2 separate regions of the Homo sapiens genome follow, and region 2 is linked to region 1. Evidence: fine-mapped expression QTL. A gene starts in region 1. The other region holds a variant in brackets. All regions are shown on one strand. Distances are from middle to middle.

Region 1 (5,379 bases):
CCTCCTCTTCTCCATTCCTGTGAATTACCTTTTCCCCTTTTATCCCTGGAGACATTTAAAAGCCATGCTTAAACCAAGTTCCAGTCTCACAAATAAAGGTTTTCCTCTATACCTCGGAAATGTTTATTTTTGCCCAAAGATTTCTAACTGTTTTATTCCCCTCTCTTGTGCTTACAGAGTCCCTCCCTCTGCCTCTCCATCGTTTTTTTCTGGCAGCATCTAAAAGTTTACCTGATCCCTTTAACCTGTAATTTCTCTTTATTTTGCCTCCATTGTCAATAATGTCTATTCCTGACTCAACATGCTTGTGTCCCCAGGATACAATACCTGTTTCTGGCTTTTACCAACAGCACTATCCCTAGAGTAATGGCCACTCTCTTGCTTTTATCTCAGAACTGCAGTTTCTACCACACCTCAGGCAGGGAAGCCTTAGCAGTCCACAGCAGAGTACCACCAAGGGCCCCATCTCTCTTTCATGGGGTTAAAGCCCTTTTTGTGGCTGAGTGGAAGGGAACAGGAAAATAGCAGAACAGGGTTAGGGATGAAGAGCCCTGATTTGAGCTGAGAGCCCTGCAGAGCCATGCAGTCTGTGCATCTGGCTTGAGCCCACATTTACCTGCTTTCATGCAGGGCCAAGCTGTTGCCATGGGAAACAGAAACAGCCAGACTTCCACATCAACCCTGCCCATGCTAGCTAGCAGACACCTCTGCAAGGTACATACACCTCAATCGTTTTCCCTGCATGGGATCTCAGTGTCAGTGGGAGCATTGAGAGCCCCAGCATGGAGGGCACAGGGCTCACAGCCCCCACCCACAGAGCTCTGTTTGGCCACCTTTTTGATGAGTGAAGGAGACCGGCATTCCTGAGCACTGTCTTTTGAGCACAGATCAACTTTCAAGGTGCAGATGAATGTGTCCTTGCTTCAGATACAAGGTCCAGTCAGAAGCTACAAAAAATGGAGCCATGAAATAATAATGAGAATCTCCACATGAATGGCCCACCCTAGGAGCTTTCTAGACTGGAGGGGTATTGAAGCTGCACATCACCCATGTGTCTCCAGAGCTGGTAAGCAGAAACCCACAGGCTTACTGCTATTGAAAGTGTGGGAGGAAGAAATGTGACCTTCTCTGGAGGAAAGGCCAGGAGACAATGACCTTGGGAGCATCTTATTGCTCCCCTCTCTCCCCATTTCCAAAGCTCCTGCCTCATCTGATGTCCTGCAATTCCCATTAAGTGACACCAGTTCATTCTGACTCTGCCTGTGCAGAAGCCAATGGCTTATGCTCAACAAGCCCAGATATAGTCTGCAGACACCCCAGGGGACAATAAACCCAAACGGACAAGCACTCTGTTCTTTCTGTACTCCTCAACCAGCCCTGCCGGTCCCCTGCGGGAACCCAGTCTGAACCCATCAGCCTCCCTCACTGGCTTGATGTGAATCTCATTTTAAAAGGAATTTGATCAAAGGACAGAGCAGAACAGGAAAAGAGCGCCAAACGGAGACCTGTGGTCCAACCTGCCTCTACCCAAGCCAGGTTGCGTGGCCTTGGATAGGTCATGTCACCTCCTGGACCTCAGCTCCTATGGGCTAGCTGAGTTCTAAGGTCCCCACTAGCCCCATGCTCTCTGAAATGAAAGGTGCAGTGAGCAGCGGAGCTGGTTCTTGGAGCTGGCGTTCTGCAGTCACTTCTGAGACAGAACATCAAAGCCCAGCACCTGGGAGTGGAACAAAAGAAGAATGGAGGGTTTCTTTTCCTTTTCCTTTTTTCTCCCTTTCTTTTTTGTATAAGCTCTTGCAAACTTACAATGTGGTTCAGAATGTACTGTTCTCTCAGACTGCCAAAATAGCTTGAGCAGGAGCTGCGGCCTTCATTTGAGGTAGAGAGAACTCCTCATGACTTTGTTTTCATTGTTCTTGCCTTGGGAAAGCCAGCAAATGCCTTCCTCTGTGAAAGCAGCCTTCACACAAGAAAGGAAAGATTAATGAACGCTACTAGGTAAACAGAATAGCATTTACGGAACAATTCAGCCCATTGCTGCGTGTGCCAGGTGCCGGGAGCTGCATCGTTGGCCAGGCAGGACTGAGCCAGCCTAGGGCTCCCCATAACCACCAGGAGGATTAGCTGAGGGGATTCATAAAGTGAAGGGTGGCTCGCGTATACCCAGGCTACACCCATAAGAAGATATTCATGCTGCAGTTTTCCCTGAGCAGAGGATATTCAGATACCAACATGAAAAGACTTTCTGATACTTCCATACATAGGGAGACTGTCGGGGTATAGGGGGCCTTAAAGTATGCTCTGGTCACAATTGTTTATTCCAATTTACTAGTACTTTTTTAAAAGCAATTTTAGAAATAAGATTATTCTGAAAGTTTACTTACAGGTTTCTCTCAGATTCTTCTTCGAATGCAGAAATGCACTTCCCAAGGGCTGTAGGTCTTGATATATAGCAGGAAAAAGGGAACCAGAAGTGTCGAGAGGGTCACATCACCATGAATCAACCTCTTTATTTCCCCCATAAAGTGACTGAGCCATTTAATATCAACAAAGAGTAATGCTGATACAAATGAATAGCATATTTCTTTCTAGCATTTTCCTCAGAATAGATGTTCTAGAAATTAATTATAGAAAATAATGAAATCAGATATTTTCAAACACAAGAGAGTGAGTTGTGAAAGCTTGGACGGCCTCTCTCCCTCTTTTCTCTTTTGCCCTCACTCCCATACTCCCCACATCCACTCGAGCCATTGGGAAATGACAAGCATCCGCCATACCCACCTCTCATCCACACTTGAAGAGGCAGATGGTTCGTAGGAGCCGCCTCTGCACTCATGACCCCAGACAGGTCGAATAATTGGTTTCATGCCTCCCACTCATACATGTGACTTTCCATCTTAGAAATTTAGCTTCCAAGTCAAAAGGACCAGCTTGTGTAGTTTCGGAGAGTTAGGAAAGTCTCAAAATCTTTCTACAAAATTATTCTTTACTTTTTGTTGGAGACCCCTATTATACCTGCAAAAACCTTTATCTTAAAAAAAAAAAAAGGATCAGAATAGACCCTTGGGCTCAGGCTGGGCACACAGACTGCATGTCCCTCATGAGTCCTTTGTGTAAGGGGCTGACTTAGTCCTGAAGATGAAGAGAGCTGTTGAAATGAGATGTTTTCATTTGAACAGGAAGGATGGGACTGCAATGTGGGTGTCTGATTGAGTCATCCAGAAGCAGCCATGGTGGCCCCAAGGGAGGGAAGGGTCAGGGAGTGGGCAGGATCTTGAGGAAACGGCCCCAGACTTTGGTGAGTGGGAAGTCACTGGTGTTTCTGGAAGAGCCATTTAGGCAGGGGCCTAGGGGTGGGCACCACTCTTCAGTGGGCTGGAGCGTGAACTGGAGTGGGAGGAGGGGAGGAGCAAGCCAACCGGCTGGACTGGATGGGGTTCCTTTGTAGTAGTGCTAGGGATGGAAATGGAGAGGGAGAAGGCAGCAGTAGAGAGGTAGTGGTTTGAGTTTGGGGAAAACTAGATGAAATTTAGCATATCAGCCTCACAAAGAAGAATAAAGATAAGAGAGAGATGTTGGTACTCCCTGAGGAGGGAGGGAGGAAAGCTGAGGGCAGTTGCAACTTTCTTGGGGAAGGAGGAGATGGAGCCTTCTGAGAACGGGGGATGGAGACAGAAGTTGCTGGATCATGGAGAACAAACCTGGGGGCAGCTGCAGAAGAAAGAACTGGGAAGAGGAAATGGAGGGGCTCCCAGCTCCCACAACCAAAAATGGAGTCAGTGACATGGTTTTGAGAGTCCCCAGCAATTCCCAACTTGGGAGTGAAAGAAAAAGGCTGATTTGACAATACCTATACAAATTTATAAGCTACTAGAATTAGTCATTCCAAGAATTTATCTTATATTTGCATGGTATGTGTGTGCAGTGTGTATGTGTATGTGTACGTGTGTGTACAAATCCACCATATGCCTCTCTATGCCAGCTGGATAGCTAGATACACAGATCAGCATTGATTGTAATAGAGAATATGTAGAACAACCCACATGTCTATCAATTGGGAATTGGTTACATAAGTGTTCATATCTCCAGTAAAATGACTTATTCCCATAATGTATCCTTCTTCCAACTGAAATGGTCTTCCCTTCCTCTCCTTCCTTCGGGAAGCCTTCACAGGATATCTCATATCTTCCTGATTACTCCCTTAGTAGATGCTAAGGTATTCCCCACCATATCAGTTTTCATTCTCTTTTACCACCCTGCAGTGGTAGATCCCAATTAATGACCTCTCTGTATGCATGACCTTTGCCTTGTAACTTTGTAGTTCCCACCCAATTTGAATCTGGGCTTAACCATGTGGCCCGGTTTGGCCAGGAGGTAGGTAGTAAACTTGATACACGAAAGAAAGAAAGAAAAAGAAAGAAGAAAGAAAGAAAGAAGAAAGAAAGAAAGAAGAAAGAAAGAAAGAAAAAGAAAGAAAGAAAGAAAGAAGGAAAGAAAGAGAAAGAAAGAAAGAGAAAGAAAGAGAGAGAGAGAAAGAGAGAGAGAGAAAGGGAGAAAGAGAAAAAGAAAGAAAGAAAGGGAGAGGCCAATTGGGTTTAAAACTCAGAGACCCCTACAAATTGGTGCAACTTAAGGTGGAGGGGCTGTGATATAGGCAGATGAGATTCAGCTGGTGCTGCAAGATTTCTTTCCTGCACTCCTAGAGAACTCAGAGAATGGAAAAGCTATGCTCAGCTGGGAATTTTAACCTGATCAGCTCAAATGTTGTTTAATTACTTTGAAAGTCTGTAGTTAGTGAGCTGGACTCTTTGAGTATCCACCTGCACTTCTCAGAAGAATAGCCTCAGAACAGCAATGGTTGGTTAAGAGGGCCTGAGAAACAGGAATCATCCTGATTTTAACGCCAACGCCATTGACCAAATGAAGTCAGGGCCTGAACTTCCAGGACATCTCTGGGATTCTGCCTCAGGGGCCCAGCAAGGAGTAGTCACTGCTGAAATTACTGTATGACCCTAAGGTCAGGAGCATCTTCTGTTCTTTCTCTTGCCATCAAGGAATCTCTGTCCTGCAGAGGTGGTTTTAGGTTTGATGAGTCACAGAAGCACAGATAACACTAGGCTCACTTCAGACCCATGACTCACCCAGCCCAGGAACTCCTCTAGAAAACCAGCATAGAGAGAGGGTGTTTTGTGAAGCAGCATGGCCTGACATAGACAAGACTTGTCGCTTTGTCCCTTTAGTAGCTTTTAACCCCTTAAAAATTGCTATGGCCAGGTGTAGTAACTCACACCTGTAATCCCAGCACTTTGTGAGGCCAAGGTAAGAGGATCCCTTCAGCCCAGGAGTTTGAGACCAGCCTGGGAAACACAGTGAGACCAC
Region 2 (5,379 bases), 23 kb after region 1:
CATCTGTTTAGGCAGGAAAAGAAAAGACATGCAAAAGTGAAGAAGTTCCTGTTGAAAGTGCATGATGTCATGTATAGCTCTTAGTAAGTGAAAATCGTGTCTTTGCAGGAAACCTCGTTCCAGCACAGATGGTCCTGACTGACAACCCCAGCCAGCCTTGGGAGCAATAGTTGAGATAAATCTAAAATTATAGGGTCTTCCCACAAAGGTGAGAAAAGGTGATATTTGAAGAAGAAAAGGTAATTTAAACTGGAATGTTTATACCCAAATTATTGGGCTCCCTTTGCCTCTCTTTTTTTCTTCCATTAGATTCATTTTGTTCTCGAAAGGGAAATTTTAAAACACTGTACCTTGCTCATGGTGGTGGAGCAATAATTTTTTTTCTAAATTGAATCAATCATTTCATTTTCCATTCATGCCTTCTCCTGCCCTCCAGCAAGTAACTCTCTCTCCAGTGCTGACACAGAACCAGAGATGATCACTCCCAGTGGGGAGTGTCTGTGGATCAGAATCACTAGCTCCATCCCATTCCCATCCTTCCATTCAGTGATGATGGAAAGTGCTCAGAGACTACGAGGCAGGCGTGTGCACTCAGATGCATGGGTCCTTACCTACAGCTGTGTGAACCTGGATGAGTTACTTAACCTTTCTGAGCTTCAGAATCCTTATTGGTAAAATGGTAATACCTCATAAGGTTGTCATGAGACTTGGGAGATTTAAGACAGGCAAAGTAAACCAGGTGCTGTGGCTCAGGCCTATAATCCCAGCACTTTGGAGAGCCAAGGTGGGAGGATCACTTGAGGCCAAGAGTTTGAGACCAGCCTGGACAACATAGCAAGATCCTGTTTCAATGAAAAAATTTAAAAATTAGCCAGAATGGTGGTACATGTCTGTAGTCCCAGCTACTCAGGAGGCTGAGGCAGGAAGGTCTCTTGAGCCCAGGAGTTGGTGAAACTGCCTTTGCAAAGATTATGACAGTGAGAGAAATATGGCATGGCTGACTCCATCTTGCTTCTAGCCTCTCAGGCTGGCTGGCTGGCTTTGCTCATTCCTGGGCATAGGCCAAGCTAATCATGGAAGGAATTTAACCTTGAAGCAAGGATAATAATAGTCCCTCCCTAAAACTAACTCCCTCCTTGCTCAGGGACCAAAAACTAATGAAAGGCTATGGGATTAGGATTATGGGAGGGACCTGAATTCTGCTAAAATGTAGACATAGTTTCTATAATCCCTAAGTGCTCAGGAGTCATATAATCAGAGGGCACAAGATTTGTGACTTTCCCAATTGCTCCTATAGATAGACCCCACCTGGACCCATGACTCATGACTCAGCCAATCCTGTGGCCCCCACTCAGAGGCAAACTCAATGCTCAAAGACTGTTTCCCACACCCCTGTGATTTCATCCCCAGCCAATCAGCAGTTCCCATTCCCTAGCCCCTCTGCCCACCAAATTGTCCATAAAAACCCCAGCCTCTGAGTTCTTGGGGAGACTGATTTGAGTGATGACTTCATCTCCCACATGGCCAGCCTCCCATCAATTAAACTCTTTCTTAATTGCAGTATCATGGTCTCAGTGAACTGGTCTTTTCTGTACAGTAGGCAGGAAGAACCCACTGAGTGATTACACTAGAGGCTGCAGTGACCTGTGATCCCTGCCACAGCACTCCAGCCTGGGTGATGAACTGAGAACCTGTCTCTAAAAAAAAAAAAAAAAAAAAAAAAAAAAAAAAAAAAAAAAAAGACAAGCAAAGCATGCTTCCAGCAGTTATTGACAACCATTATTAGACATAGTAGGCATAAATTGTAAGGTAGTCTCATATATTCCCCTGTTCACATGCTCCCAGACCCTGAGGTGTGTCCTCACCACTGTGTGTGCTCATTTTGGACTGTGTGTGCCCTCTGGGCACAAAAGCCACCACACCAGGCCATCTCAGAGAAGGATTTACTGAGGCCCAGACGGGTGGCTTTGTCAGCCAACCAAGAGCCAGGCCTGGAGGTCAGGTGACCTCATTCTCAGGCCCATATTTATTAGCCACCTTAAGGATTTTAAATTTTGGCAAAGGATGAAGCATTCTCAAGATCCAAGTCACATGAAGCAGAGTCTGGTTCTGTGTGTTTGTTTAAATGAAGCAGCTTATGACATGAGTATTCAATTTCTGTCATCTGTTCTAAATTTAAGCATGCAAAATGTCAAGTTATCTCACTATTTTGCTTGAGTTAAAAAAAAAGATTTAGATTTATGGCTGAATGTTATAAGAGCTTCTGCTTCATTTCAAATCCTGACAGGCCCCGCAAAAGAAGCAATTGACCAGTAAGTCCCTTCCTGAGCCTAAGGTCAGTGTGCTGGTCCTGGAATGCACATTAGCAACAAGATCCAAACCTTCTGTCCAGCCACCTCTGGAGGGAGGGTCTGGATGCTCCAATTGCTCCTGCACCACCTGTGCTCCCCACCCATGCCTCTCCCCAGCTCCCTCCCCTACTCCTCTCCAGGGAGAGCTCCATACCAAGGGCTACCTCTGAGCACCTCCAAGGCCAAGAGCTTGGAGCTCCTCCAAGACCTGGAGGACTGAATCCTCCTGGCCCTCAGCAACTTGCCCCTGGGGCAAGAGGATGTTTCTACAAAGGTGCCCCACCTGAAAGGACACCCTGGACTTAGGGCTGAGGCCCAAGGGACAGTGCCTGGCTTTAATATCCCAAGTTACTTTCCA[G/T]TGTCCCTCGATGTCTGCCACTTAAAGATAGCATCAGGTAAAATATGCATCTATTGGTTTTGTTTTCTTAGATAATAGCTTTTAATACCATGCCATTGCCTTATCAAAGACCTCATAAGAAAGCTTTGTGATAACTAAAAATTCTCTAAACAGACAAAGGAAATGGCACTTGGAATCACTGTTTATTCATTTTCTAACAAGGCCTGGTTACACCCTCTGTCTGGTATAGATAAGAAAACTTACTTTTTGTGTAACTTAGAGTCAAAATTGCAGAACTCTGCGGTGTATCTGATACTTTCTCAACCTGATTAATGGTGTTGTGGATCATAAATTGTCAACTCCCCCCCAACCTCAACACCACAAGAGCTGCAGCAAAAGCCACCCAATCTAAAGCCATCCCCTGATGGAGCACGCAGTTGCACTCTCATCTCTTCATTTTAATTATCAGCACATTACACTCCGATAGTTTCCTTGTTTGTTTATCTTCTGCCTCCAAAACACAAGAATGTAAACTCCTAAGTCAATCTCATCCACAGCAACGGCCACAGAGTCCAAAACAATGAGGTGCTCAACACCTAGTTCTCTTTGCAGCTTTAACTCTTGTTATCTAGGCAAGATCAGGAAGCCAGTGGAGAGCTAGAAGAGGAAGGAAAGTACCATAGGAGAGAGGGACATAAGGATATCCATTAAGGAAAGGAAGCTGTATCCAGGAGAAAGCCAAGGAGGGAAAATCTAAGAAATGTCATTCTCCCCCATTCTCCGTTTCTGAACCTACTAAAATAAGTAAGAATTTCAAGAATGAACTGAGCTTTTCCATCAAGCTGCTTTGCAGGTGAGCTGCCTAATGTCTACATGATCCTCTTTCCCATTCTCTGCAACCATGGCTCAAACCAGCTGCTGGAACCCAGTCTTCCCTCTGTTTCCATCAACCCCTTACCTAGCTGCCCCATGCCGTGGGCATCAAAGGCCACACCAGCCAGCTGATAGAAGCCTAACAAACTATGCCTACTGTATTAGTCTGTTCCCACACTGCTGATAAAGACATACCCAAGACTGGGTAATTTATAAAGGAAAGAGGTTTAATTGACTCACTGTTCCACATGGCTGAGGAGGCCTCACAATCATGGTGGAAGGGGAAGGAGGAACAAAATCCCGTCTTACATGGCGGCAGGCAAGAAAACTTGTATAGGGGAACTCCCCTTTATAAAACCATCAGATCTCTTGATGGTTTTATACCTATTCACTACCATGAGAACAGCACAGCAAAGACCCGTCCCCATGATTCAATTTACTCCCACCAGGTGTCTCCCACGACACATGGGAATTATGGGAGCTACATTTCAAGATGAGATTTGGGTGGGAACATGGCCAAACCATATCACCTACCTACCGAAACTGAGAATGAAAATTACTGCATAGGTGTTACACACTGACATTCAGAGACATGAGTCAAGAGAGATGACACAGGGGCAGTGAGTGAGGCCTGGGGCAGTGCCTGGGAGAACTATCAAATGGAGCAATGTATCAGTCAGCTCCAGCTGCCGTAATAGAATGCCACAGACTCAGCTCTTTTTTTTTTTTTTTTTTACTATACTTTAAGTTCTAGGGTACATGTGCACAATGTGCAGGTTTGATACATATGTATACATGTGCCATGTTGGCTTCCTACACCCATCAACTCATCATTTACATTAGGTATTTCTCCTAATGCTATCCCTCCCCCAGCCCCCTACCCCTCTACAGGCCCTGGTGTGTGATGTTCTGTTCCCTGTTTCCAGGTGATCTCATTGTTCAATTCCCACCTATGAGTGAGAACATGTGGTGTTTGGTTTTCTGTCCTTGTGAAAGTTTGCTGAGAATGGTGGTTTCCAGCTTCATCCATGTCCCTACAAAGGACAAGAACTCATCCTTTCTTATGGCTGCACAGTATTCCATGGTGTATATGTGCCACAATTTCTGAATCCAGTCTATCATTGATGGACATTTGGGTTGGTTCCAAGTCTTTGCTATTGTGAATAGTGCTGCAATAAACATACGTGTGCATGTGTCTTTATAGCAGCATGATTTATAATCCTTTCGGTATATACCCAGTAATAGGATGGCTGGGTCAAATGGTATTTCTAGTTCTAGATCCTTGAGGAATTGCCACACTGTCTTCCACAATGGTTGAACCAGTTTACAGTCCCACCAACAGTGTAAAAGTGTTCCTACTTCTCCACATCCTCTCCAGCACCTGTTGTTTCCTGACTTTTTAATGATTGCCATTCTAACTGCTGTGAGATGGTATCTCATTGTGGTTTTGATTTGCATTTCTCTGATGGCCAGTGATGGTGAGCATTTTTTCATGTGTCTGTTGGCTGCATACATGTCTTCTTTTGAGAAGTGTCTGTTCATATCCTTTGCACACTTTTTGATGGGGTTGTTTGATTTTTTCTTGTAAACTTGTTTGAGTTCTTTGTAGATTCTAGATATTAGCCCTTTGTCATATGGGTAGATTGTAAAAATTTTCTCCCATTCTGTAGGTTGCCTGTTCATTCTGATGGTAGTTTCTTTTGCTGTGCAGAAGCTCTTTAGTTTAATTAGATTCTATTTGTCTATTTTGGCTTTTGTTGCCATTGCTTTTGATGTTTTAGTCATGAAGTCCTTGCCCATGCCTATGTCCTGAATGGT

Which allele goes with the higher level. Positions count from the first base shown, and alleles are read on the strand shown. Sizes are in standard deviations (SD) of each study's normalised expression.
As copies of G replace T in region 2, the expression in hypothalamus of the gene that starts at base 2,421 in region 1 goes up (small effect, 0.37 SD a copy in GTEx).

Evidence for each region. PIP is the estimated chance that this variant, and not a neighbour inherited with it, causes the effect. A credible set is the group of variants that fine-mapping cannot tell apart.
Region 2: its variant is the best candidate, but not a certain one, in a credible set for the expression of DCSTAMP in hypothalamus (GTEx, PIP 0.88).

What each region holds. Positions count from the first base shown.
Region 1 is chr8:104,336,868-104,342,246 of GRCh38, reverse strand. DCSTAMP (dendrocyte expressed seven transmembrane protein) reads right to left here and starts at 2,421. Exons shown (of 4, transcript NM_030788.4): 1 at 2,385-2,421.
Region 2 is chr8:104,313,632-104,319,010 of GRCh38, reverse strand. It overlaps LOC107986899 (a long non-coding RNA gene), which reads left to right. Exons shown (of 3, transcript XR_001745732.1): 2 at 109-208. Among named protein-coding and RNA genes, the nearest start is that of DCSTAMP, 24 kb to the left of the region's middle. The variant G/T (reference allele first, on the strand shown) is at 2,710.